2 linked regions of the Homo sapiens genome follow. The protein of the gene in region 2 interacts with the protein of the main gene of each other region in a pairwise test. Each region holds a gene or a part of one and is shown on either strand. Other genes may lie near its edges. The genes, in order: CEP126 and NUDT21.

Region 1 (8,623 bases), on a different chromosome or scaffold from region 2:
ATCTTGAAAAGGGGAAAGAAATGATGTAAGCCTTATAACCTAGGCTTTCTACGTAGTTATGTTGCCTGAATAAGCCTTAAAAAGATCCACTAGTAACCCAAGCTACCTATTAAACAAAAAAACTTAACACTTTTTTCTTTTTTCCTTTTTTTTTCTTTCTTTTTTTTGAGATGGAGTCTCACTCTGTCACCAGGCTGGAGTACAGTGGTGCAATCTCGGCTCACTGCAACCTCCGCCTCCCAGGTTCAAGCAGTTCTCCTGCCTCACCTCCCGAGTAGCTGGGACTACAGGTGCCCGCCACCACGCCCAGCTAATTTTTGTACTTTTAGTAGAGACGAGGTTTTACCATGTTGGCCAGATGGTCTCCATCTCTTGACCCCATGATCCGCCCGCCTCAGCCTCCCAAAATGCTGGGATTACAGGCATGAGCCACCATGCCTGGCCAACACTTTCTTAAAGAAGACTATGAAATCTAAATACTCAATAACATAATGCTCACAATGTCAGCATTCAATCAAAACTTACTAGACATGTGAAGAATCAGGAATATATGACGCATAACCAGGAGAAGAGTAGTCAATATAATCAGACAGAAATAACAGAGATGATGGAATTAACCAACAAGGAATTTTAACGTATTTTTACAAATATTTTCAAGGAATTAAAGTAAAAATGTACATAAGAAAGACAATTGAAAAAAGAAATAAACAGACCTTCTAGTTCTGAAAAACATACTATCAGAAATGAAAAATTGACTGGATGGACTTAACATTGCAGTCATTGCAGAACAAAAGATTAGTGGACTTGAAAACATAGCAATAGAAATTATCCAAGCTGAAGCTTTGGGAGAAAAAGGCTGGAAAAAAATGAACAGTTTGTTAGTGACCTGTGAGACCATATAAAGCCATCAACACATTTAATTAAAAATAAAATTTAAATAAAATTTCACAAAGTAGGAATGGAAATGTTTAAAGAAACCATCGCTGGAAATGTTTCAAATTTGATGAAAATTATAAATCCACAGACTCAAGAAGCCCAACAAACTCCAAGAAGGATAAGTGTATGCACACACACATACCACAGAAAGGCACCTAAAAATCAGATTAAAGCCAGAGGGAAAAAAGATATGTTACATGCAGGGCAATAAAGATAAGACGGACCGCTAAATGTAACTTATAAGCAAAACTTGAAATTGATCATAATGTTTCATTATTTAGTGGTGGGAAAAAATCTGAAGAAAAAAAAAGTATTGTTTATGAAATCAGAAGTTGCCAAACTTCTTCTGAGGTGATTTGGGAGATGAAGCAATTACAGACCTATGCAAATGGAAATCTTAGAGCCATGGATGTCATACTTATATCTAGAAGGATCTTCTAACGCAAATTTCTGTGTCTCACTAGATGTAACCTCAAAGGATGCCTTCCAGGCCTGATTTCATCATCATTATCAGTTAAAACAACTTATTTCCAAGAACAGGCATTGAAGTAGCTATGCTTTGTTTTGTTCCCTGTTTGGGTTGAGTGATTATCACTTTAAGAAGTATGCCAAAGGATGTGATAAATAGGGACTAAATGCTAAAAATATAAAACTCTCATGAATAATTTTTAAAACTTATTCCACAATACTAAATCAATAAGAACTAACTATATAAATTAAAATATTTTTATTCTGTAATTTATTTACTTTATTTCTTAGTTTACTTACTGGGATAGAAAAAGAAAGTACTTTTGTCTAATACCATAGTATGTAAATTTTTAAAATTTACATATTTTAGATAAATCTAAAATGTATGATAAATCTTAAGGGATATCAATTTTCTTTCCATTCAGCATTTTGACTAGATATACAATTTAATGTCTTCTTAAAATTTATTTCTATATATGTGATGTAGATTAATGCATGCTAGGTATGTGTGAGAAAACAGAAATATTTTTAAACATTTACCATACATTGAAGTAATTTTGAAATATTATTAAAGACTGACAAATTTCATGTAAATTTCAGTGAAATAGTGATGTAAATGTCTATGGAATTTATGGAAATTACTACTATGCTAAACCTCCAAAAGGAGTCATTAAAGTCAATAGTTTTTGAGCCTAAACCCATATGAAAATTACCTGGGGAATTTAAATAATACCAGTATATGGACCCCATCCAAGTATTAAATCAGCAGGACCCAGGTATAGATATTTTACACAGTTCTTTATGTGATTTTAACATGTAGCCAGAGTTAACAGCCTTACTACAGTCCACAAAATTAAGTTTTATAAAAAGATGTAGCCCCTACTAACAGGAAACTCACATTAGGATCACAGAGCTTTTAGGAGCCTCATTCAAGTCCAGTGAATGTTTTAGGAAAAAAATACAATTTATAAATAATTATTTTTCAGAATCTCACTTTCTATTACTAAGCCTTCAAGAAACTTCATACTCTAAATGGAATAGCAATAACAAAAATTTTTTTTAAGTTCTAACTGTGGCTAGAATAAGCAGGTATTACTTTAGGAGTTGAAATCAAAGCAAGCATACTATACTATAAGTCTTTGTTACCTCCCAATTTTTTACCTTGAGGATTGCTGCAGGGATAAGAATTATTTATATACCTATGATGTTTATAGTCATACTACTCTATATGCAAGGAGAATTGGGCTCAGTAACAATGGTATGTTGAATCGTTAATCTTGGCATTTAAAAGTTTATAAGCTATAAAACAATGTTCTTTTTTTTTCCAGAAATTTTGTGATGAAGTTAATCAGATAACCAATTCTGAAACCCTCTCAAGTATAGACAGTCTTGAGGCTACAGAGCATGAAGAAATATATTTAACACTTAATAAGGAGCATTCCACATCCATCCAGCGGAATACCATTTCCCTCAAACCAGCAAATATGCAATCAACTAATCTCAGCTGCTTTGATGAAGATAAACTGGCATTCTCTAAAACTCAACATATAAATAATTGGCTTACAAATTTAGATGCTTCAAATACTCAGAATGTCACAGCTTTCTCAGATATTTTAAGTAAATCTAATGTTCTGCCTTCATGGGAATATTTTAATAGTAAAGAACAAAATCCATCTCCTTTGAATGGAACAGTGGAAAGAGCCACAAATACTGCTAATAATTCAGTACCCTTTGTATCTAGCCCACCCATGTTTGTACTAGATAAAAAATGTGAAAAGACCTCTGAAACTAGCACTATGAGGACAACTGACTCCACTTCTGGAGCATTCAAAAGAGAGAGACCATTAGTTACTGAGAGCCCAACATTTAAATTTAGCAAATCCCAAAGCACTTCAGATTCTCTAACCCAGGAAGTGGCTACATTTCCAGACCAAGAGAAATATTCTGAATTAAATCAAGAAAATGGAACTACTTCAATTCCTACTTCATGTGTACCAGTGGCAACGCCTTTAGTTTTGCCATCTAATATACAGTCAGCTAGACCTTCAGCAAAGAACAGTATACACATAAAAGAAATTGATGCAGTGCAGTGTTCTGATAAGTTAGATGAATTGAAAGATGGTAAAGAAGAAGAGATAAAATATTTTAATTGCAATAAGGAAGAGTTGCCTTTATTTTCAGACAGTTTTCAAGATGCCTATATACCTCACAATCCTGATTCAAAAGATGAAAAACAAAAATTAGCTGAAACATCATCCTTGTCTAATGTAACTTCTAATTATGACTTTGTTGGCCAGCATAAGAAAATGAAATACAACATCCATGAGAGAAATGGTGTGAGATTTCTTAAAAGTATTTTAAAGAAAGAATCTAAATATGAACATGGTTATCTTAAGGCATTAATTATAAATCAGAGCTTTAAGTTTGGAAATCAAAAAGCAGCAGCTATCAGAGATAGTATTGAATTAACAAAGGAAAAAGGTGCAGAAATTCCAAAGACCATTAAAAAACTGAGGTGGTTTGATGAAACTAGCAATATAGAAAACAATGCTGAAAACAGTCATTCACTGAAGAATAAAACAGGAACAACTCAACAGCATTCTCAACAATTCCACATTCAAAGTGGTGCTGGAAGCAACATAATTAGTGTTTCTACTTGTGCTGTAAATTCTGCTGATACAAAGAAGTCCAGGGAGGATTCTATCTCTGAAAATGTTACGACTTTAGGAGGATCTGGAGCAGACCATATGCCTTTGAACTGTTTTATACCTTCAGGTTATAACTTTGCTAAACATGCCTGGCCAGCCTCAAAAAAAGAAGAAAGTAAAATCCCTGTACATGATGATTCTAAAACTAAGCAAGGTAAGCCACAAAGAGGTAGAGCAAAAATAATTAGAAAACCAGGATCTGCAAAAGTCCAATCAGGCTTTATATGTACAAACAGAAAAGGCGCTGTCATTCAACCACAGTCTGCAAGCAAAGTCAACATATTTACACAAGCTCAGGGAAAATTAATTATACCTTGTCCTCCTCCTCAATCTACATCAAATATTAGAAGTGGTAAAAATATACAAGTGTCTCAGTGTCAACCAGTAACTCCTGAAAATCCTCAAAACATTATTACACATAACTCTTTTAATTCAAAACATGTGCTTCCAACAGAACACAGTTTGAATCAGTGGAATCAGGAAAGTAGTTCTCCACTCTCAAATGCTTGTTCTGACCTAGTCACTGTGATACCATCACTGCCATCATATTGTTCTTCAGAGTGCCAAACTTTCGCAAAAATAAATCATTCAAATGGCACTCAAGCAGTTGCCCGGCAAGATGCGACATTATATTGCACCCAAAGAAGTCCTGTTTGTGAAGAAAGTTATCCGTCTGTGACTCTAAGAACTGCTGAAGAAGAATCAGTTCCCTTATGGAAAAGAGGTCCTAATGTCCTGCATCAAAATAAGAGGGCTACAGGTAAGAATAAATTTATAGCTTTTTATAGATAAAATGTACACCTTTGTTAAAGTCATGTGAAATTGTTCCTATTTATGTATGGCCATACATACTACATAAATATTAATATTAAACAATAGCTTTATAGAAATAACTTACCTCCAGGCCAAGCACAGTGGCTTACACCTGTAATCCCAGCACTTTGGGAGGCCCAGGCGGGCGGATCACTTGAGGCCAGGAGTTCAAGACCAGCCTGGCTAACATAGCGAAATCCCATCTCTACTAATAGAAAAGTTAGCCCGGCATGGTGGTGCGTGCCTATAGTCCCAGCTACTCGGGAGGCTAAGGAAGAAGAATTGCTTGAACCTGGGAGGTAGAGGTTGCAGTGAGCCGAGATCATGTCACTGCACTCCAGCCTGATGACAGAGCAAGACTCTGTCTGAAAAAAAAAAAGAAAGAAGTAACTTACCTCCTGTAATATTGTGATTTTTGGCCAGGCACGGTGGCTCATGGCTGTAATCCCAGCACTTTGGGAGGCCAAGGCACGCGGATTTACTTGAAGTTGGAAGTTCGAGACCAGCCTGGCCAACGTGACGAAACCCTGTCTCTACAAAAATACAAAAATTAGCCGGGCATGGTGGCGCGTGCCTGTAATCCCTGCTGCCTGGGAGGAGGCAGGAGAATTGCTTGAACCCAGAGCCCAGGAGGAGGAGGTTTCAGTGAGCCAAGGTGGTGCACCACTGCACTCCAGCCTGGGCAACAGAGCCAGACTCTATCTAAAAAAAAAAAACAACAACAACATTGTGACGTTAGTAGCTGAATCCTTTTAAGAGAATGACCCAACCAGTGCTCAACTGAAATTAGAAACTTTTGCCAGCCTCCATTTTTTTCCATGACTTTTCCTGTTAGTTTAAGAGGAAGGACAAGGAATAGGATCTGATTCTTGTCCCATATTATTCTGTCATTACTATTGTAGTCAAATTTTCCAACAAAGTAAGCACAGTGAAAAATATTGTTTAAATTATTATAAACAAGTGAATACATGTAGTTATATTTATTTTTCTTTAAAACTTTTGTTAAATTGAGTTGCTATAAACTAATATTAATTAGATATACCTAATTCTCCCATTCTCTTTCCCAAAGTGTGGTAGCTCTGCTTTTATCTGCTATGACTATTGGTTTTTGTGAGAGCAAAAAAATGATATCATTGTCTTGAAATATTTTTGAAAATTAATTCTCTATAGAATGCCATTGCCCTTACTAGCTGGTCGACTCTCATAAAACTTCTTTCCTTCTATGAAGGAATAAACTAGAAAGCAATATATTTTCCTGCCAATAGGAAACAGTTGCCTATTGAGAAATAGTTAGGACTGGAGTCTGGAGGCAATCAGAAAAACAACTCTTGTTTTTCCAAAGGTATGAATAAATATTGATATATAATGAGAGTTTAAAATTTAATATTCAAAGTCATCTTCAATTAAACCATGAGTTTTTAAGGCCAAGGGACATTTGTGTAATTCATCACAGTATCCCCAGATCCTAACAGTGCCTGGCACTTAGTAATCACCCAGACTCTACTTGAATTGAATGGATAGAAGCCACATTAGCAGAAGGGAAGCTAAATGCAGACACTATAATCTAAAAATCTTCATTACTTGTCTACAAAAATCTAGATTTTAAAAAATTGTTTCTCTCACTAAAATTATGATTTTTTTATCCAGTCATTTCAGAATGTAACTTTAGCTTTCACAACACTTCAAAAAAATGAAGGTATCGTACAGATTAAATATTCTAAAATAAATAATGATAGTTACCCTTTTTGAGTTTGTAGCTTGTACCAGTCACAGTACTGTTTTATACTTACTGTCTCATTTAAACCTTGTAATAATGCTGAGAAATAAATATTTTTAAGACACTGTTTTGCAAAGAAGTAAGCAGAATTATCCAAGGTCAAGAGCTAGTAAATAGCAGAATTGGTATTTTGATCCAGATCTCTATGGTTCCAAGTCCTGTGCTTTTTCTACTAAAATCATATAGTAAATATAGTGATAAAGCAAATATCATATATCACACTCTGCTAATTAGGAAAAATATTAGGAAACTTATAGTTTCCCAATAGCTTATGTACAAAAGGGTAACATATTAAAATTATCTGATTCTCTGATAAAGGAATGGGATACATTTTATCTGGAGAAACCAATATTTTCCTGACATTTAGTCAAAGGAGGTAGTTCTCTCTGGGACATTCGTATAAGGGACATTGGAAAATGTAATGAATTTTAACATTCTTAAATGTTCTTAAATATTCACACTGTTGTAAATATCTATACCTATTAATACAGCGATTATACTTAGAAAATATAACAGTACTAACAATACTGAATATTTTGTATGTTCAGTCATTTAAGCTTTTTTTTCCAAAACTGTTTAAATATAAAATGCTTCAAGTGAACTCTTTGTTAATACTGGATTACAGTTCAGTGAGCATTTGTGGGATTTTTTTTCCTACTCTCTTATTTGCAGTTCATTTTATTTTTATACCCTTATGCATCCAGAGTTGACGATTGTGGAGAGCATCTTGTTCTCAATTAGCATTTCCAGAACACTCTAGCATAACTCTCTAGGAAAAACTCTTCCAATTAGATCCAAGCCATTCGACTATACCACCTCCTGATGTCTCCAGTTATTTCCCCCCTAAAAGATGACTTTGATATTTGGTTCACAGTCTTCATTTCCATACAGAGTCTTTGCCATCATATTGGATAGTTCAGCTTTTATATGGATGAGCAAACATCCTGATCCCTCTCACTCCTTTTTCATCTCTAATAACTTTCTATACAATTCTGCCTCAAATACCCTTTCCCTTTGTTATATTCTGGACCTCATCAACATTCATAACTCCTCTACTTCTTTTCTTTATTTCAGCTTTTATTTTAGATATAGAGGGTACATGTGGATGTTTGTTACATGGGGATATTGCATGATGCTAAGGTTTGGGGTATGGATCCTATTACCCAGGTAGTAAGCAAACTCACTCACTCCTCTACTTAAGCACATTCTCCTCTCTTTTCCCTACTCTTACTCCTACCATTCTTCTACCCTACTGGGCTTCTTTAGTCCAGTATTTTCTCTACTTTCTCATTCCAATTCATCATCTCTTTCTTTCTTTTTTTTTTTTTTTTTTTTTGAGATGGGGTCTCACTTTGTTGACCAGGCTAGGGCGCAGTGGCGTGATCATGGCTCAGTGCAGCCTGGGACTCCTGGACTCAAGCAATGCTCCCATCTCAACCTTTCAGGCACTACAGGCACACACCACCATGCCCAACTAATTTTTTTATATAGAGACAGGGTCTCCCTGTGTTACCCAGGCTGGTCTTGAACTCCTGGGCTCAAGCCATCTTCCCACTCAGTCTCCCAAAGTGCTAGGATTATAGGCATGAGCCACCGTGCCTGGCCAGGTTCATCATTTCAATAGTTCTTTTACCAATATCCTAAACTCTTTGCCTCTTGGTCTTTTTTGTCACAAGAATCAAACAGCCCTTCCCCGCCCAGGGGGAAAAAATTATTTGCTTTTTCTCTGCCTTCTTCTAAGTAGCAGAGAAAATTCATACCAATGTGCCAGGCATATTGGCTATACTGTAGATTTATGAAACATTTTCTGATGATCAACATTACTGAGTATTCCTACTGTTTATCTCGTAAATTCACTGTCTTTCCTTAGAAATAATTATTTCAAACATCCTCCCCAAATATCTGATTTCCCTACTTCCCT
Region 2 (6,830 bases):
TTAATGTCCCCCTGCATTCCACTGACTACTAATCTAATCAGAAAGTTTTAATTATGGGTGCTAATGGCTAATTTCTTTTTCCTAAAACTAAGCCACCGTTTTTCATCAACATCCCTCCAGTTATTTTCTATTTCTCTCAGTCAACTATCCTCAGATTTTTCTTGCACCACAGCCTTTCCTTTTCACAGCAACTCTTCTACTTTCTCTTTTTGTCCTCTAAACCTATTTACTAGCCTTTGGCATTTATTCTATTCAGTCTCCTTATTGTTTCCTTCTCCTCATCTGAATCTTCTACCCACCATATCTAATCGAAAACTCTCTTCCTTTACCAATAATTTAAAATATGGCTCAAACTGTTAAAGACAGTTTTCATCTTGCCTAATAAGGATCAAATTTTTCTTTAAAGATAGTTAAAAAATCCATACTTATATGTTGTAAGCCCTTAATTAAAGCCTTACAGCAAGAAGCCTTTGAGTACGAATTTAGGCCACATTTGCCCATCCAAGGTATCTATTCTACCAAAAGCCCTTGACATTAATAGTCAACATTATTGTATCTACCCCACTCAGCCATTCTTGAAAGGGGAAAAAATCAAGGTTGCCAAAACTTTAAAAATTACTTTAATTCCAGAAGCCAAGTTCTAGGCATATGAAAAAGCTCTAAAATAATTAAAATATACCATTCCAGGATGCTTTAAAAATTTAAAGAACATCCCCGGTAGATCCAATGCTAAATCTAAAACCATCATCCATAGCAGCAGCAGATATGCTACATAGAACGACGTGCCAAGCAATTTTTTAAAACGCTTTACATATATTAACATTTAATTCTGACAACCTGAGTTAGAAAGAATTAAGGATAGCCATTACACATCTCTGTTGCAAGAGCCAGCTCCAATATATCAGTAAGGAGATGTGAAGATGAAATGTCAGAATTTTCACCTGTGAAATCAGAGTGCCAGCCCAGACATACATATTGTTCTCATCATACTGTGAGCTTCATAAAGCAGGGGCTACACCTTACTTCCTCACCACTGTATATCCAGTATTGTGCACAGTGCCTGGTACAAAGTAGGCATTCATGCAATATTTCCTAAAATAAAATATACTGGGGGAGAGGGCATTTGTTTTCAACTTAATGTTAACTCAGGTGAACTTAAGTTCACAACACAATTATTATTTCTGAATATTTGTATTTACACAGGAGAGGAAATGTACTGTAAATCAACCCATAATTTTAATAGAGCGAAGATTAAAATATCTTACTGAAAGCTAACTATTTTGCCAATTCTACAAAATGGTTGGATGCAAATTAATTCAGTAATCAAGACAAAACAAGAAAAGACTGTGGGTTTTAGTTCTAATAACCACCGAAAGTAATCCAGAAGCTGTGCTTTCACACTTTTAAAAAGGATAACATTTGCCTTTACCATTTGATGGATTTTTTCTTAATTTTTAAAAAAATTTTTGTAGAGACAGCCTATGTTGCCCAGACTGATCTCCAACTCCTGGCCTCAAGTGATCCTCCCACCTCAGCCTCCCAAGGTGCTGGGAGTACAGTCGTGAGCCGCCACTCCTGAGAACTTTTATACACACAACTATCAACTAATTCCAGATTTTATAAACCCAGCATTTCCATTATCTAAATTTCCAAGCCAACACGTTTTGCAAAATAAAACAATGTTAACCATCTTTTCAACTTCAAATCACTTTTGGTTGGGGGACGGGGAGACAATGTCCGTTTATTTTAATATGAAACAGAGAAACACCTAAACTGCCTTACGAAAACATCAATACCACCAAATCCTTGCACTTGTACCCTGACTGGCATAAACTGGCCACTTTCCTCCATCCTGGCATAAAATGGAGGCACCGCGTTGCCTCGAAAACAAATCCTCAGAAACGATTTTAAAAAGCATTACTGACAATTTCTTGATTAAGACACCCCAAACGCCAATTACCTGCTACAGCGAGTCTGCTTCTGAGAATGACCTTGAAATGCAATGGTTTGAAGTGTTGAAACAGAAAGGTGTTGAAAATAAAACACAGCCCACAATGGGTTTTCTGGTACAAACATTCTGGTTCCCTCCAGTCTGAAAGCCCAACCATAGCAGCATCCTTACTCCCAAGGAGGGGCCTACTTGTGGTGCCTGGGATGCCGGCATTGAGACATCAGACGACGCGAAGGCATAAGGCATGGGGCAGGGCAGACAGCCCTGAGCACATGAATAAAATGTGTTGTATTCAAAAACTGAAGTATTAAGTGGCACCTAAAAGGAAGAAAACTAGACCTAGGCATTACAGCTAGATCTCGAAACCTTACTGTCAGAGTGAAATCTGCAAAAATGATACTAGGTTATACCATTCGTATCACATCAACACTCACAAAGCAATACCATGTACGTGATGCGAAAGCATAAACAATTCACTGGAAGGATTAAAAAAACACACATTTTGAAGTCGGTTACCTCTGGAGAGGTGGGGAAAGGATGAGTTAAAAGCAAACTCCGTTTTTCCCCATTATGACCGAATACATAGGATGGGAACAAGCCTTCCTTTCAGAAAAGGACTCTAACCCTGGAGGCTGGAGGATGAGAAAGGGGCCTGAGAGAGGGAGGAAGGCGCGCATCCGCCAGCGGGAGTTGGAGGCGGGGAGGTGCAGAGGCGTGAAGCGCGCCGAAAAGCCGGGGGCGCGTCGGAGAGTCTATAGGAGCTTTCACGAGAGAAATGCCCGCCAAGGCCGCGCCGCACTTACAGGTTGATGGTGCGCTCCAGGGTGAGGGGCTTCGTCTGCTGGATGTACTTGTTGCCGAACTGAGTGACCCCCCGGGGCCAGCCGGTCTGCGAGCGATTGGGCGGTACCACAGACATGCTGGCGAGCTCCGGCGCTGACGGCGAGCAGAAAGTGGCAGGCAGGGTAGACTTTCCCCGTGCGGGAAGCGGTTATCTGCAATCCCCTCAGCGGCTACTGCCCGCCATTAACAGGACAGCGCAAGAGGAGGCGTAGGCACGCCGGAAGTGAACCCGGAGCCTCTGGCGGCAGGAAGTAGAGGGGCGGTGGCCTGCCAGACCGAGCTCCAGTGGGCCAATTGCTGGTGGGATGGCTGCAATAGCTGGAGCTCCCATTGGTAAACCGGGTATAGGTTCCGCCTTCTCTTACTTTGGTGCTTCCCATTGGGTAGGGCCGGGAAACACGATAAAGGGGACATGCCGGGAGTTGCAGTACCCTCAGGAAGGTAGCGTCTTGATCTGCGTGGCGTGGTTCTGTGCCTTGGGAAGAGATGAATGGGAAGCGGCCAGCGGAGCCCGGCCCAGCCCGGGTGGGAAAAAAGGGAAAGAAGGAGGTGATGGCGGAGTTTTCGGACGCTGTTACGGAAGAAACCTTGAAAAAGCAGGTGGCTGAGGCCTGGAGCCGCAGGACGCCGTTCAGTCACGGTAACCGGGTGCTCTCAGGGAGGGGCCGCCACGCAGAGGTCTAGGGATCTCTGAAAAAGCCCTGGGACTCGCGCCCAGCCTTGGGCAGCGGGGCCGCAAGGGAAGAGGCTCTTAGAGGACTTTGGCCACCTCCTACTCTCCTGCCTCGGCTGCTGCTCCCTTTCACTCCAAATTCGGTTGCAATTTAGAAACGTGAGAAGAGGGAGAAATGGAGGCCGGAGAGTTTTGGGAAGCAGAGGGTATGCAAGAGATAGTTGCATTCTGGAGTCAAAGATTACTGAGTTAGAATCCTCTCCCCTGATTGGGCGTCGCCAGGCAATGGAATTAACCTTATTAAACTTCAGTTGCTTCCTAAGTAAAATGGGATAGTTCATAATATTTACCTCGGAAAGTCGGTGAATGGGAGCGACACACTAATGCTTGCAGGCTTCAGTAAATGTTTCCCTGAGTAAGGCCCAATACACATGTGGACAAATACAGGAGTGGCTGATGTCATTTCTCCTGCAAGGGCATTGCTCAGCTGTCCCAGGAGAGTCTAGCCAGGGCATTTGTCGTGAGCTGCCAGCTTGACTCCCTAGTGTACTCGTCTCTACGCGCCTGTAGTTTGACTCCATGATGTATGAAAATAAACGCGCTTTGACCAAGGAAAGGCGCCTACGTTGAACGATTCCAGCCTCAGCTTTAAATATCACCTTAGGTGTTCAGAGCTCTGCTTCATGCGCCAGGCATCCCCTTCTAGAGTTTGCCGTAATTTTTCTTTCCGTTGTCAAGTGCTTTGAAGAGGTGAGTCCTGGGTAGGCTGGATGCCTATAGAAAACGATAGCTTAGTGTTTAAGTGCAGGCTCTGTACTCTCAGTTTCTTCATCTGTAGAATGGGGAGAGTGATAATGTCTCCCTCAGAGCTGTTAAAAAGATTGAATGAGATCATGGGCCTGGCACCTGGTAGGTGGTGCTGATGATTACAGGATGGTGATCTAGCCAGCCGGAAGCAGTGGGTAAATGTTGGGGTAGAAATCAAGGAATTAGAGGTGGTTATGCCCGAACTGAACTGATTTTTTTTTTAAGTACAGTAAGTAGTAAATGCCTCTGACAGTAACTTGGGAAAAGCAAAAGCAGGGAAACTGCCGACCAGTATTGCTACTCTCATTTAATGTGCTACCCAAAGTTTGAGGGAAATGAATTAAAAATCTAAAATACATTCAATTCAATATGTAATCATTGAAACACATAAAAAAAAGAGTAGGAACCTTGATTTAGTGACATCACCCATCACTCATCTCAAGGACTGGAGTTGTAAGCATGGTATCTTTAAAAGTAGTATTTAATGGGTAAAGAAGAAAGGTCAGAGCTTATCATTTTTTCCCCAAATCTTAGACTTTAAGTATTAGGTTCCCCAAAATTCATGACCATCCCCTTTTGTATTAGCTCTGCTATGTTACTTGGATGTCAAAAATACAAAAGGAAAAAAGCCATAGATAATGTTTTTCTTCCAACAGAAGTCATTGTCATGGACATGGACCCTTTTCTTCACTGTGTGATCCCAAACTTCATCCAAAGCCAAGACTTCTTAGAAGGGCTTCAGAAGGAACTGATGAACTTGGACTTCCATGAGAAGTATAATGATTTATATAAGTTCCAGCAGGTATTTATTCCCCTGCCACATTAACTCTTCCAGCTTGGAAATTCACTGTCTATGAAGTCATTGAATACCTTTAGACTTGAGGTTTTAGGGTGGGTTTGCCTTGAACAGTCCTTGCATTGACATTCTTAAGAGCATGCCTTCATTTAACCAAGCTTACTGAGTGTTAACTATGTGTTAAGTGCTATAATTATATGGAAGCCTTAGACAGTGCCTGCCCTGTAAGACTTTAAAATCTAGTGTTCAAAGTGCAAGCTCTGTACTCTCAAAGACTTCTCAGTTTCTTCATCTGCAGGATGGAGAGAGTGATAATGTCTTCCCTAGGTACACAGGTTTCTATGGGTCTCATGGCTTTACCTCCTCTTGGATGTCTAGTAAGTGTCTGACACTTAAGTCTAAAACTGAATTCTTGGTCTTCTCTAAATTTGCTCCACCTGTAGTTTTCCCCATCACAGTTAATAGCAACGTGATCTTTCCAGTTGCTCAGGCCAGAAGTAATAATAAGGGTGAATGTGACGGTGATAGAGATAGTGAAGAAACAAATTAAGCCGATGAGTAAGTATGTTATAAACAAAGGGGTTAAGTACATGTGGGTAAGTGGTATGATGATGAAGAGAGTTGTACGTTGGGAGACAATTACCATTTAAAATCTTGAGTTCGGGCCAGGTGTGGTGGCTCATGCCTGTAATCGCAGAACTTTGGGAGGCCAAGGCGGGTAGATCGCCTGAGGTCAGGAGTTCGAGACCAGCCTGGCCAACATGGTGAAAACCCGTCTCTACTAAAAATATAAAAATTTTCTGGGTATGGTGGCATGTACCTGTAATCCCAGCTACTTGGGAGGCTGAGGCAGGAGAATCACTTGAACCCAGGAGGTGGAGGTTGCAGTGAGCCAAGATCACATCATTGCACTCCAACCTGGGCCACAAGAGCAAAATACCATCTCAAAATAAAATAGAGTTTTGAGTTCATGTTTTTGTTTCAGGTGACTTGCTATATTACAGTATGCTCTACATTGCAGTAGGGCAAAGCGTTAAATCCGTTCTTTTTTTTTTTGGTGGACAGTTTAATTGGGCAGAAAAGACTATCTCTTTTTTTTTTTTTTTAAGTTTGGTTTTTCTACTCTGGAAGACACAGCCTAGTCTAGGTATAGAAATACAGGTCATTGGTTTCCCCAGTTTGGGGGTATATCTTTCAGTACATGAATCCTTTGTAAACCTCAGGGACATCTGTGCTTCAAATTGGGGGGGGAAAAAAAAAAGAAAGATTAAAAAGATGAAGAATAATTTTTTTTTTTGCATTTTCCCATTTTATTTTATCTGGGATAAGAGAGTAAATAACGAATTTCTCTCTCTTATTCTTTTACACTAGAGCTGATTGGTCAGATGGTTGTATCCTGACCTTCCCCAGATCTTTCTGTCTTTGGACCTTATACACATGACTGAATTAACCAGGATAAATACATGAAAGATATGACTCTTAATAATTCAGAAAGCTGAAAACTAAACTGCTTTCCATGGTAAGGTTGCACAGGTTAATTAAAAACCGCAGTTACCTGCTGTTGTGATTATCGCACCCTTGGCCTCTTGTTGATTTGGGGCCATACGCATCTGATTATTAAAATTGAAACATCACAATAATTTTTACTTCATGCAATTTGGAAGATTAAAAATACTGGAAGATGGCCGGGCACAGTGGCTCATGCCTGTAATCCCAGCACTTTGGGAGGCTGAGGCGGGCAGATCACAAGGTCAGGAGAT

What was found.
Region 1: the proteins of NUDT21 (region 2) and CEP126 interact in a two-hybrid assay, tested with the Homo sapiens proteins (2 studies listed by BioGRID and IntAct).

What each region holds. Positions count from the first base shown.
Region 1 is NC_000011.10:101,959,009-101,967,631, forward strand, and holds part of CEP126 (centrosomal protein of 126 kDa), read left to right. Parts: intron 1-2,732; coding exon 2,733-4,872; intron 4,873-8,623. UniProt on the Homo sapiens protein: Participates in cytokinesis. Necessary for microtubules and mitotic spindle organization. Involved in primary cilium formation.
Region 2 is NC_000016.10:56,448,333-56,455,162, forward strand, and holds the start of NUDT21 (cleavage and polyadenylation specificity factor subunit 5), read right to left. Parts: upstream 3,001-6,830; 5' UTR 2,871-3,000; coding exon 2,755-2,870; intron 1-2,754. Other genes in the region: prolyl 3-hydroxylase OGFOD1, read left to right, coding at 3,281-3,434, 4,931-5,076. UniProt on the Homo sapiens protein: Component of the cleavage factor Im (CFIm) complex that functions as an activator of the pre-mRNA 3'-end cleavage and polyadenylation processing required for the maturation of pre-mRNA into functional mRNAs.